Linked DNA regions of Homo sapiens. The protein of the gene in region 2 purifies or fractionates together with the protein of the main gene of each other region. This does not show direct contact. Each region holds a gene or a part of one and is shown on either strand. Other genes may lie near its edges. The genes, in order: GLG1, IL4I1 and CAP1.

What was found.
Region 1: the proteins of IL4I1 (region 2) and GLG1 purify together in Homo sapiens (affinity purification with mass spectrometry, with the first as the bait; one large-scale study listed by BioGRID). This does not show direct contact.
Region 3: the proteins of IL4I1 (region 2) and CAP1 purify together in Homo sapiens (affinity purification with mass spectrometry, with the first as the bait; one large-scale study listed by BioGRID). This does not show direct contact.

Annotation. Positions count from the first base shown.
Region 1 is NC_000016.10:74,597,021-74,600,666, reverse strand, and holds part of GLG1 (Golgi apparatus protein 1 isoform 3 precursor), read left to right. Parts: intron 1-3,646. UniProt on the Homo sapiens protein: Binds fibroblast growth factor and E-selectin (cell-adhesion lectin on endothelial cells mediating the binding of neutrophils).
Region 2 is NC_000019.10:49,894,046-49,898,488, reverse strand, and holds the start of IL4I1 (L-amino-acid oxidase isoform 1 precursor), read left to right. Parts: upstream 1-1,601; 5' UTR 1,602-1,654; intron 1,655-2,306; 5' UTR 2,307-2,328; coding exon 2,329-2,341; intron 2,342-2,435; coding exon 2,436-2,674; intron 2,675-3,308; coding exon 3,309-3,421; intron 3,422-4,019; coding exon 4,020-4,221; intron 4,222-4,443.
Region 3 is NC_000001.11:40,043,585-40,047,230, forward strand, and holds part of CAP1 (adenylyl cyclase-associated protein 1), read left to right. Parts: intron 1-3,646. UniProt on the Homo sapiens protein: Directly regulates filament dynamics and has been implicated in a number of complex developmental and morphological processes, including mRNA localization and the establishment of cell polarity.

The DNA.
Region 1 (3,646 bases), on a different chromosome or scaffold from region 2:
TCTGCCTCCTGGGTTCAAGTGATTTTTCTGCCTCAGCCTCCCGAGTAGCTGGGACTGCAGACATGCGCTACCACACCCGGCTAATTTTTGTATTTTTAGTAAAACGGGGGTTTCGCCACACTGGCCAGGCTGGTCTTGAACCTCTGACCTCAAGTGATCTGCCTGTCTTGGCCTCCCAAAGTGCTAGGATTACAGGTGTAAACCAGTGCACCCGGCCTCTTTTCTTAAGCAAGGACTGTCTACTTTAGCTTTGTCCTTGTTCTTTTTTTTCTTTGAAAGTCTTACTCTATCTCCCAGGCTGGCTGGAGTGCAGTGGCATGATCATGGCTCACTGCAACCTCAAACTCCTGGGCTCAAGCTCTCCTCCCACTTCAGCCTCCCGAGTAGCTGGGACTATAGGTACACAACACCACTTAGCCTTGTTCTAAGCGGAAATATACGTGAACTCATGAATTTGATGTGGTAGGTATACTTCTCTAATATATATGAAACTAAATATATGACTATAAAATATAAGTACCAACACATACCACCTGAAATCATCTTGCATATTACCAATAGCACATGCTTCAGAAAGCACTAACACTGGATTATCTTTCTCTGTTGTTTTTTTGTTTTGTTTTGCTTTTGGTTAAGACGGAGTCTCGCACTGTCACCCAGGCTGGAGTGCAGTGGCGCGATCTCACCTCACTGCAACCTTTGTCTCCTGTATTCAAGCGATTCTCCTGGCTCCACCTCTCTAGTAGCAGGGATTACAGGCACCAGCCACCATGCCTGGCTAATTTTTTTTTTGTTTTTTTTTTGAGACAGAGTCTAGCTCTGTCACCCAGGCTGGAGTGCAGTGGCGCGATCTCGGCTCACTGCAAGCTCTACCTCCCGGGTTCACGCCATTCTCCTGCCTCAGCCTCCCGAGTAGCTGGGACTACAGGCGCCCACCACCATGCCCGGCTAATTTTTTGCATTTTTAGTAGAGACGGGGTTTCACCATGTTGGCCAGGATGGTCTCGATCTCCTGACCTCGTGATCTGCCCACCTCGGCCTCCGAAAGTGCTGAGATGACAGGCGTGAGCCACTGTGTCCGGCCGAGGCTTGGCTAATTTTTGTATTTTTAGTAGAGACGGGTTTTCACCATGTTGGCCAGGCTGGTCTTGAACTCCTGACCTCAGGTAATCCCACCCGCCTTGGCCTCCCAAAGTGGTGGGATTACAGGCGTGAGCCACCGCTCCTGGCCTTGGATTATCTCTTAAGATTCTTCCAGCTCCGGTGCTTTGTGATTTTGTGATCTGTGGGAATACAAAACGTGTGCAAGAGAGTCGTAGCACAGGTGGAAAGGGGAGATGCTTTGGGGAATTATTAAAGGGGCTGTATTGACCGAAATAGAGAACTTGAAAATGTTTTCAGTCCAGGTCATGAAGGGTCGTATATTCACCTCTAGCTGGTTCTCCAAGTAAAGTCCAGAAATGGGATGTTTTTATCCCTACCTCAGATAAAAATATTACAGCAGATAATTGAGAATTACCTGTAAAGTAGCATTGTCGTTTATGGCAAATACTTTTTAAGAAATCTCTTGATGAGAATGCTTTACAGTATATAGTTGCTTAATAATTCATTGTTCTGTAGAAGGAAATAAAATACTTGAACAGTCCAAAAGATGAAATGCTGTATTTCTCTTTTGTGCATTTCTCCTAATGTGTTCAAAACAAATTTACTCAGGAACAATAACAAAAATCTCCTCTTTATATAAGTTATATATATATATATTTATATATTTGTTGTTGTTGTTTTGAGGTGGAGTTTCGCTCTTGCTCAGGCTGGAGTGAAGTGGAATGATCTCGACTCACTGCAACCTCCACCTCTCGGGTTCAAGCCATTCTCCTGCCTCAGCCTCCCGAGTAGCTGGGATTATAGGCACTTGCCAGCACACCCGGCTAATTTTTGTAGAGACGAGGTTTCACCATGTTGACCAGGGTGGTCTCAAACTCCTGACCTCAGGCAATCCACCCACCTCAGTCTCCCAAAGTGTTGGGATTACAGACGTGAGCCACCGCGCCCGGCCTTATTTATATATTTTTAAAAGCAGCAGTTAAAATGGCTTATAGGCTATCATGTAAATTAATTTTTCTTCTTTCTTTTTTCTTTTTTTTTTTGAGATGGAGTCTCATTCTGTCACCAAGCTAGAGTGCAGTGGCGCGATCTCGGCTCACTGCAACCTCCACCTCCTGGGTTCAAGTGATTCTCCTTCCTCAGCCTCCCGAGTAGCTGGGACTACAGGCGCCCGCCACCACGCCCGGCTAATTTTTTGTATTTTTAGTAGAGACGGGGTTTCACCATGTTGGCCAGGATGGTCTTGATCTCTTGACCTCGTGATCCGCCCGCCTTGGCCTCCCAAAGTGCTGGGATTACAGGCGTGAGCCACCGCGCCCGACCAATTTTTCTTCTTTCAGCAAACATTTATTGAAACCTGTGTGCAAGACACTGCTCAGTGTTCAAGTATACTACTGCTACTTATAATGGTTAGCATTTACTGAGGGTTTTCTGTGTGCCCTGTTCTGAGGGACTGGATGCTTTCTAGGCGTTATCTCATTTAATCTTATGAGAGATGTTTTATTATTATCATTCTTATTGATTTTGTTTGTTTGATTTTGTTTTCGAGACAGAGTCTTGCTCTTGACGCCCAGGCTGGAGTGCAGTGGTGTGATCTCAGCTCACTGTAATCTCTGGCTCCCGGGTTCAAGCGATTCTCCTGCCTCAGCCTCATGAGTAGCTAGGACTACAGGTACACACCACCATGTCCAGCTTTTTTTTTTTTTTTTTTGAGGCAGTCTCACTTTGTCACCCAGGCTGGAGTGCAGTGGTGCGATCTCAGCTCACTGCAAGCTCCACCTCCCGGGTTCACGCCATTCTCCTGCTTCAGCCTCCCGAGTAGCTGGGACTACAGGCGCCCGCCACCATGCCCGGCTAATTTTTTGTATTTTTTAGTAGAGATGGGATTTCACTGTGTTAGTCAGGATGGTCTCAATCTCCTGACCTCGTTATCCGCCAGCTTCGGCCTCCCAAAGTGTTGGGATTACAGGCGTGAGCCACTGCGCCCGGCTAATTTTTGTTTTTTTAGTAGAGGCAGGATTTCGCCATGTTGGCTATGCTGGTCTTGAACTCCTGACCTCAGGTGATCTGCTTGCACCACCATCTATCACCGGAGCTTTTTTTTTCTTTTTTCTTTCTTTTTTTTTTTTTTTGAGATGGAGTCTCACTCTGTCATCCAGGCTGGAGGGCAGTGGCATGATGTCAGCTCACTGCAACCTCAGCCTCCCTGGTTCAAGCGATTCTCCTGCCTCAGCCTCCTGAGTAGCTGGGACTATAGGCGCACCCCACCACGCCCAGGTAATTTTTGTATTTTTACTAGAGACGGGGTTTCGCCATGTTGGACATGCTGGTCTTGATCTCTTGACCTGGTGATCCTCCCGCCTCGGCCTCCCAAAGTGCTGGGATTACAGGCGTGAGCCACTGTGCCTGGTGAGTTTTGTTTTGGGTTTTTTTTTTGTTTGTTTGAGACGAGGTCTCACTCTCTTGCCCAGGCTGCAGTGCAGTGGCATGATCATGATTCACTGCAGCCTCTGCCTCCCGAGCACGAGTGATCATCCCACCT
Region 2 (4,443 bases):
ATTTTTTTCTTTTTTAGAGAAAGGGTTTCGCCATCTTGGCCAGGCTGGTCTCGAGCCCCTGGGCTCAAGCAATCCTCCCACCTCGGCCTCCCAAAGTGCTAGGATTACAGCAGTGAGCCTCCGCACCCGGCCCTCATTACTATTTTTTATTTTTATTTTTTATTTTTTGAGATGGAGTCTGGCTCTGTCACCCAGGCTAGAGTGCAGTGGCACGATCTCAGCTCACTGCAACCTCCACCTCTTGGGTTCAAGCAATTCTCCTGTCCCAGCCTCCTGAGTAGTTGGGACTACAGGCGTATGCCACCATGCCCGGCTAATTTTTATATTTTTAGTAGAGACGAGGTTTTGCCATGTTGGCCAGGCTGGTCTTGAACTCCTGACATCAGGTGATCCGCCTGCCTCGACCTCCCAAAGTGCTGGGATTATAGGCGTGAGCCACCCCTGGCCCTCGTCACTATTTTTGCTGACCCAAGCTCTTTCGGTCCCTGAACTCTCCAGCTCTTTGATCATTTCCCTTTGCCACGGCCTCCCGCCCCTGCGTCACATGCCTTGTTACTCACATTCACCCCCCAGCCCCTCCCGGCCATAACCGCATCCCTCTTTGATTTACTGCGGGAGTTTCCCATCTTCCTTCTTGTTAATGCCCTCCAACCCCCACCCAACCCTTGCTGCAGAGAATCTGCCTCCCTCTGGTTTTCCTCCTCACGGAGCCCCTGGCTCCCTCTCCCCCACCCCAAGGAAAGTCCCTGCTATTGTTTCTCCACCCCCACCCACTCCAAGGTGCCGCCCCACTCCCTGCCCTGAGCACTGAGGTGGTTCTTAAAGCAGGGATGGGTGAAGCCTGGGCGCTTCCCTCTGCCGGGTGGTCACTCATAGAACCCCTGAGTGCCCCTGCGGCCACAGCAGCTGGCATTTCCAAAGGAGCAGCTTCCAGTACTACCCCAGGTTCCGGCCACAGAACTTAACCTGGATTCACTCACTTGATCCTAAAACACTGTGACGTCTGTAGACGTCATTTGACAGCTGTAGACGAGAGCCACAGAGGGGAGGGCGGGCTCAGAGCCCACGTCCTGACCCCGGGACCACGGCTGCCAGCCCCACTGCTACACCCATGTAACGGAGGGGGAGACTGAGGCTCTGGGTGGCAAGTGGAGAGGGAAGTGGAACCATGGGGGGCCCTGCAGGACATGGCGACACCTGACGGAGAGGGACTTGGAGGGGAAAGTTGGCCTGGCCCAGGGACCTGTAGCCCCTCTGTCCCCGTGGGAATCAAGGAGGCAGAGAGAGTGCAGGGGAGGATAGAAACAAGTGGCCTGGTGATCAGGGACGGGGGCAAACCGAAGGGGATTCCCCGTTGTTGGCACGGTTACCTGAGCATCTATTTCTGGCCTCCAAACCACCCCAGAACTATCTGGGGCAAAAGGAAGTGAATAGACTGATTAACTTCCTCCAACCCCCTTTCTCCAACCTCAACTAGACTCTGAGCATTGGACCAGAGCAGCTCCAGGAAACCAGTTTCATTTCCCTCGGCCAGTTTCCCAAAAGGAGGGGTGGGCGGGGCTCTGCCAGTTTAAGGGGAGAGAAAGGGCCACAGCAGAGACAGTGGAGGGCAGTGGAGAGGACCGCGCTGTCCTGCTGTCACCAAGAGCTGGAGGTAGTGACACGGCCAGTGGTGGGGGGACAGAGAGACAGGACCCACAGAAATAGGGACTGAGAAGCAGTCAGGAGCTGGGGAGATGAGGAAGAGGGAAAAGAGGCCGGGCGCGGGGGCTCATGCCTGGAATCCCAGCACTTTGGGAGGCCGAGGTGGGTGGATCACCTAAGGTCAGGAGTTCGAGACCAGCCTGGCCAACATGGCGAAACCCCGTCTCTACTAAAAATACAAAAATTAGCCAGGTTTGGTTATGGGTGTCTGTAATCCCAGTTACTTGGGAGGCTGAAGTGGGAGGATTCTTGAACCTGGGAGGCGGAGGTTGCAGTGAGCCAAGATCTTACCACTGCACTCCAGCCTGGATGGCAGAGAAAGACTGTTAAAAAAAAAAGAAAGAAAGGAAAGAAAGAGGGAAAAGAAGAGAAAGAGACAGGAACCCGAGAGAGCTGTGGCAGAGGTGGAGACCGGTGAGGAGGGAGGCAGGGACGGTCCAGGGGACTCTGAAGGAATGGGGTTAGGGGACACAGGTCCAGAGAGCAGGACAGTGACTGGGGGAGGGCCGGCTCTAGCAGCTGGGCAGCCCATGGGAGACAGAGTCAGGCTACAGTGGTCACAGGCCTCAGTCACAACAGCCCTCCCTTCTCCTCCACCCCAGACACCATCTCCCACCGAGAGTCATGGCCCCATTGGGTGAGTAAGCAGGGGAGGGGCTCTGGAACAAGTGAGTAGAACCCCTCTCCCCCGACCTGCCACAACCCCGTTGACCCTGTCCTCCTCCTCCCAGCCCTGCACCTCCTCGTCCTCGTCCCCATCCTCCTCAGCCTGGTGGCCTCCCAGGACTGGAAGGCTGAACGCAGCCAAGACCCCTTCGAGAAATGCATGCAGGATCCTGACTATGAGCAGCTGCTCAAGGTGGTGACCTGGGGGCTCAATCGGACCCTGAAGCCCCAGAGGGTGATTGTGGTTGGCGCTGGTGTGGCCGGGCTGGTGGCCGCCAAGGTGCTCAGCGATGCTGGACACAAGGTGGGAAGCACTGCTTGCAGTCTACCTGGAGTCCCTCCTGCTGCAGGCTGGAGTCCCTGGGCACAGGGACACGGCCGCGTTCCTCCTTGAGGGGGTGGAGGTGGGGATGTGGGGGGAGAGGCTATCTTTCCCTGTAGTCTGGGGGTGAGGCCCAAGCCCCCTGCTGTCACATGTCTCCACTGAGAGGCCCCAGACTTTCCTGTCCCACGTTTTTCATCCCAGAGGGAAGTCTCACTGGCTCAAAGCTCCTCTGTCCTGGGGTGGGGCGCCTGTTGGTGGAGAGGGAAACTCTACCAAGGGGATGTGTGCCCTGAGGTCTAACCACTGACCTACTCACTGCAATCCGAGAATGAGAATGGGCCAGCCCAGGGGCTTCTACGCATATGGGTCATCTCCGAACTCCCCGAGCTGGGAAGTCCCTTTGCAGTCTAGCTGGCAGCCTTCCTCCTGCAGTCTGGAACTGCTCACTCAGTTCTGTTCCCCCACCTCCATACAGAAGGGGACCCTCTCCTAGTCTGGGTCTGGGCCACTGTGGGGATGGAAGAAGGCAGGGGGCTGGCACGGGGTGGTAGAGGGCAGGGGATGGTCAGTGGGTGGAGCTGAAGGGCCCTCCTCGCCCCACGGACTCCCTCAGGTCACCATCCTGGAGGCAGATAACAGGATCGGGGGCCGCATCTTCACCTACCGGGACCAGAACACGGGCTGGATTGGGGAGCTGGGAGCCATGCGCATGCCCAGCTCTCACAGGTGACCTAGCAACCCACCCACCTGTGTGCCTAGACTCAACTAGCCCCCCAGCTCCATGCCCACACCAGAGTGGGCCCGAACTTCCACTCTGACTCCCAAACCCAGCCTCCAACCCCATCCTTCGCCTAATCCTCACCTCAGTCTTGCCTCCAGCGCCAGCCCTGGGCCTCTGGCAACACTCGGGCCACCTGGTCCAACCAGACCTCCAGCTGGCCCTGCCTGGTGCAAAAGCCAGCTCCTGTGCTGGCCCCTCCAGGCCTGCAGCTCCACCATCCCCACACCCTCAGGCACCCCAGCCCCAGGCCCCTTCTTCATCTCAAACCCCCGTCCAACCCAAACTCTGTCCCCCTTCCCAATTCTAATCTGGGCTCTATCCCACTCTTAACCCAATCCTAATCCTGGTACTGCCCTGAGGCCTCCAGCCTTGTCCCCATTTCATTCCCATCCCCCAGCATTGATTACCCCAAATCTAGCCCCACCCCCAGCCTCATGCTGGTCCCCAGCTACTCTCCCCTCCCACCCCTCTTCTCCAAGTCCCACTAGGGACCAGGCCACCCCCACTGGAGCCCGGCCCTCACTCACCCACTCCCCTGATCAGGATCCTCCACAAGCTCTGCCAGGGCCTGGGGCTCAACCTGACCAAGTTCACCCAGTACGACAAGAACACGTGGACGGAGGTGCACGAAGTGAAGCTGCGCAACTATGTGGTGGAGAAGGTGCCCGAGAAGCTGGGCTACGCCTTGCGTCCCCAGGAAAAGGGCCACTCGCCCGAAGACATCTACCAGATGGCTCTCAACCAGGTGGGTACCGCCTGCACCCTCCTCCCGCCCTGACTTCTCTGTCCTCCTCCTAAGCTCGCCCCGGCCCGGCTTTTCTTCTCTCTGGCATCCCTTCAGTCCCCTCCATGGGGTGGGGCGCCTGTTGGTGGAGATGGAAATTCTACCAAGGGGATGTGTGCCATGAGGTCTAACCACTGACCTACTCACTGAAATCCGAGAATGAGAATGGGCCAGCCCAGGGGC
Region 3 (3,646 bases), on a different chromosome or scaffold from region 2:
GAAATTTCTGGGCTGGGCACAGTGACTCACGCCTGTAATCCTGACACTTTGGGAGGCTGAGGTGGGCAAATCACTTGAGATCAGGAGTTCAAGACCATCCTAGCCAACATGGTGAAACACCATCACTACTAAAAATACAAAAATTAGCTGGGCGTGGTTGTGCATGCCTGTAGTCCCAGCTACTTGGGAGGCTGAGGCAGGAGACTCGCTTGAACCCGGGAGGCGGAGGTTGCAGTGAGCTGAGATTGCACTGCTGCACTCCAGCCTGGGTGATAGTGAGACTCTGTCTCAAAAAAAAAAGAAAAGAAAAAAGAAATTTCTCGCTTTTTCCAGAAATACTTCCTCAATTGGGTAGGCATAATTGATATCTCAGAGAAGTTTAAATAAAATGGTAGCAGCAAAAGTACTTTGTAGAATACAGCCTGATGTGCAAACCAAAAGTGGTGATATTGTTAAGATTCAGTGAGTATATTTTTGCTTTGGAGTTTAGCTATTGAGTCTGTAAAATGTTTTGTTTCCAACCTAGGGATGATCTTTTATTCTCACCCTTTTTCCTGGTTGCAGTTATTTTTTTAGCTTTTAAAAAGTGACTTTCTTGAGGCTGAGTTAGAGACTAGCCTGGTCAACATAGTGAGACCCCTGTCTCTACCAGAAAAAAAAAAGGTGACTTCCTCCTTTCAGTTTTTTGTGAAGCATTGTGAATCAAATTTTTTTTTACTTAAGCAAATGCAATGTGTCACTGGAAGCCGAACCTCTGGTTTGAAATTTAATGCTGAGATTTGAAATATGAGAGTTCTCGAGCGGTATCTTACCCAATTTTAGTGATTATTACTTTGAAATGTTGACATCAGTTTCTTTCTTTATTTGTGCTAACCTGGCTTTCATGACCTATACTTCAGTTTCTCTATGACAACCAGACAAATCTTTTTAAAGTTCTCTAAGAAGAAGCATTTTTCATCTTGTTAGTCTTCACTGACTTCATATTTACAAAGAATAAATTCTGAACTCTTTTTTCCATCTTACAGAATTCTCTACAGTTTAGACCCTTATCTTAATTTTTATTAGATGATACAGGTTGACTTTCTAATTTAGAAAGTCGTGAACTAGCATTTTACTTAACCTTTTGCACCTCCCTATGCTCCTTATTAAATTAGAACAGGGTTTCTCAACGTTGGCACAATTGACATTTTGGGCCATATAATTCTTTTTTTTTTTTTTTTTTTTTTTTTTGAGACAGAGTCTCTATCTGTCACCCAGGCTGGAGTGCAGTGGCACAATCTCGGCTCACTGCAAGCTCAGCCTCCCGGGTTCACGCCATTCACCTGCTTCAGCCTCCCGAGTAGCTGGGACTACAGGCGCCCGCCACCAGGCCCAGCTAATTTTTTGTATTTTTAGTATAGACGGGGTTTCACTGTGGTCTTGATCTCCTGATCTCGTGATCTGCTCGCCTCGGCCTCCCAAGGTGCTGGGATTACAGGTGTGAGCCACCGCGCCTGGCCATATAATTCTTTATTATGGAGTTGTCCTGTGCACTGTGGGATGTTAAGCAGCATCTGTCTCTACCCAGTAGATGCCAATAAGACTTCCTCAGTTGTGACAACCAAAAATGTCTTCAGACATTGCCATATGTCTCCTGGAGGACAAAATTGCCCCTGGTTGAGAATTGCTGCGTTAGAAAGTATCGTAGCTATGATTGTACAATGTCCCCAACTAAATTCTGTGAGGGCAGGCCCCATAGCCATACTTAGCACAGTCGATGGTACATGATAAGCACTCAGTATCCTACAATGAATGAATCATTTGTTTCTGTTGAAGCTTCAAGAAATTACTGTTCCTTCAAGGAATTTCTGGGTGGGCAGGTTGGAGTACAATGGTGCAATCATGGCTGATTGCAACCTCCAACTTTTGGGCTCAAGTAATCTTCTCGCTTCAGCCTCCTGAGTAGCTGGGACTACAGTTCTTTTTCTTTCTTTTGTTTTTTGTTTTTTTGAGATGGAGTTTTGCTCGGTCGCCCAGGCTGGAGTGCAGTGGCGTGATCTTGGCTCACTGCAACCTCCCCCTCCCGGGTTCAAGCAGTTCTCCTGCCTCAGCCTCCTGAGTAGCTGGGACTAGAGGCACACACCACCACACTCAGCTAATTTTTGTATTTTTAGTAGGGACAGGGTTTTGCCATGTTGGCCAGGCTGGTCTCGAACTCCTCAAGGGAACCACCCACCTCAGCCTCTCAAAGTGCTGGGATTACAGGCATGAGCCACCATGCGCTCGGCCAAATGTTTGATTTTTTTCAGAGACAGGGTCTTGCTATGTTGCCTGGGCTGGTCTTAAACCCCTGGCCTCAGGTGATTCTCTGGCCTCAGTCTCCTGAGTCACTGGGATTACAGGCATGAGCCACCACACCTGGCAGATGTGATCTTAAGAGAAGTGCCATTGGTTTGAGTACTAGAAGCAAGCTTCTTGTTGATGGTGTAAGTCAGCAGATTTCCCTCTCTATTGAAAATTGTGTGAATTCCTGTTTTGTTTGTGTTCCTTGTATTTAGAGTGCTTGGTTTTAGTGGACAGGGACTATCATTTATTTTAAAGTTGCATATAGGCTGGGCGTGGTGATTCACGCCTGTAATCCCAGCATTTTGGGAGGCCAAGGCGGGTGGATCACCTGAGGTCAGGAGTTCGAGACCAGCCTGGCCAACATGGTAAAACCCCGTCCCTACTAAAATTACAAAAATTTGCTGGGTGTGGTGGCATGTACCGTAATCCCAACTACTAGGGAGGCTGAGGCAGGAGAATCACTTGAACCCGGGGAGGTGGAGGTTGCAGTGAGCTAAGATCGTGCCACTGCATGATCTGCGCCAGCTTGGGTGACAGAGCAAGACTCCGTCTCAAAAAAACAAAACAAAACAAAAAAAAACAAACAAACACTAAAGTTGCATATAGTTTATGGAGTTATTCACATTTATTTTAGTTGATAAAATTATACAGTCATGTGTTGCTTAATGACAGGTACATTCTGAGAAATTTGTCATTAGGTGATTTCATCATTGTGGGAACATCATAGAGTGTACTTGCACAAATTTAGATGATACTGCACATGGTGTAACTTATTACTCCTGGGCTACAAACCTGTATAGTATGTTACTGTATCTAATACTGTAGGCAGTTTGTAACACAGTGTAAGTATTTGTTTATTTAAACTTTTTTTTTTTTTTTTTGAGACGGAGTCTCACTCTGTCGCCCAGGCTGGAGTGCAGTGGCACGATCTTGGCTCACTGCAACCCCCGCCTCCTGGGTTCAAGCAATTCTTCTGCCTCAGCCTCCTGAGTAGCTGGTACTACAGGTGCGCACCACCACGCCCAGCTAATTTTTGTATTTTTAGTAGAGATGGGGTTTAACTATATTGGCCAGGCTGGTCTCAAACTCCTGACCTTGTGTTCTGCTAGCCTTGGCCTCCCAAAGTGCTGGGATTACAGGCATGAGCCATCGCGCCCGGCCACATTTTTAAAGTACAGTAAAAATAGGGTATTATAATCTTATGGGATTTTGTGTTGATTAATCCCCATATAATCCCATATAATCTTATGGGACCACTGTTGATTTTGTGGTCCATCCATTGACCAAAATGTCATTATGTAATGCATGACTGTAGTTTCAT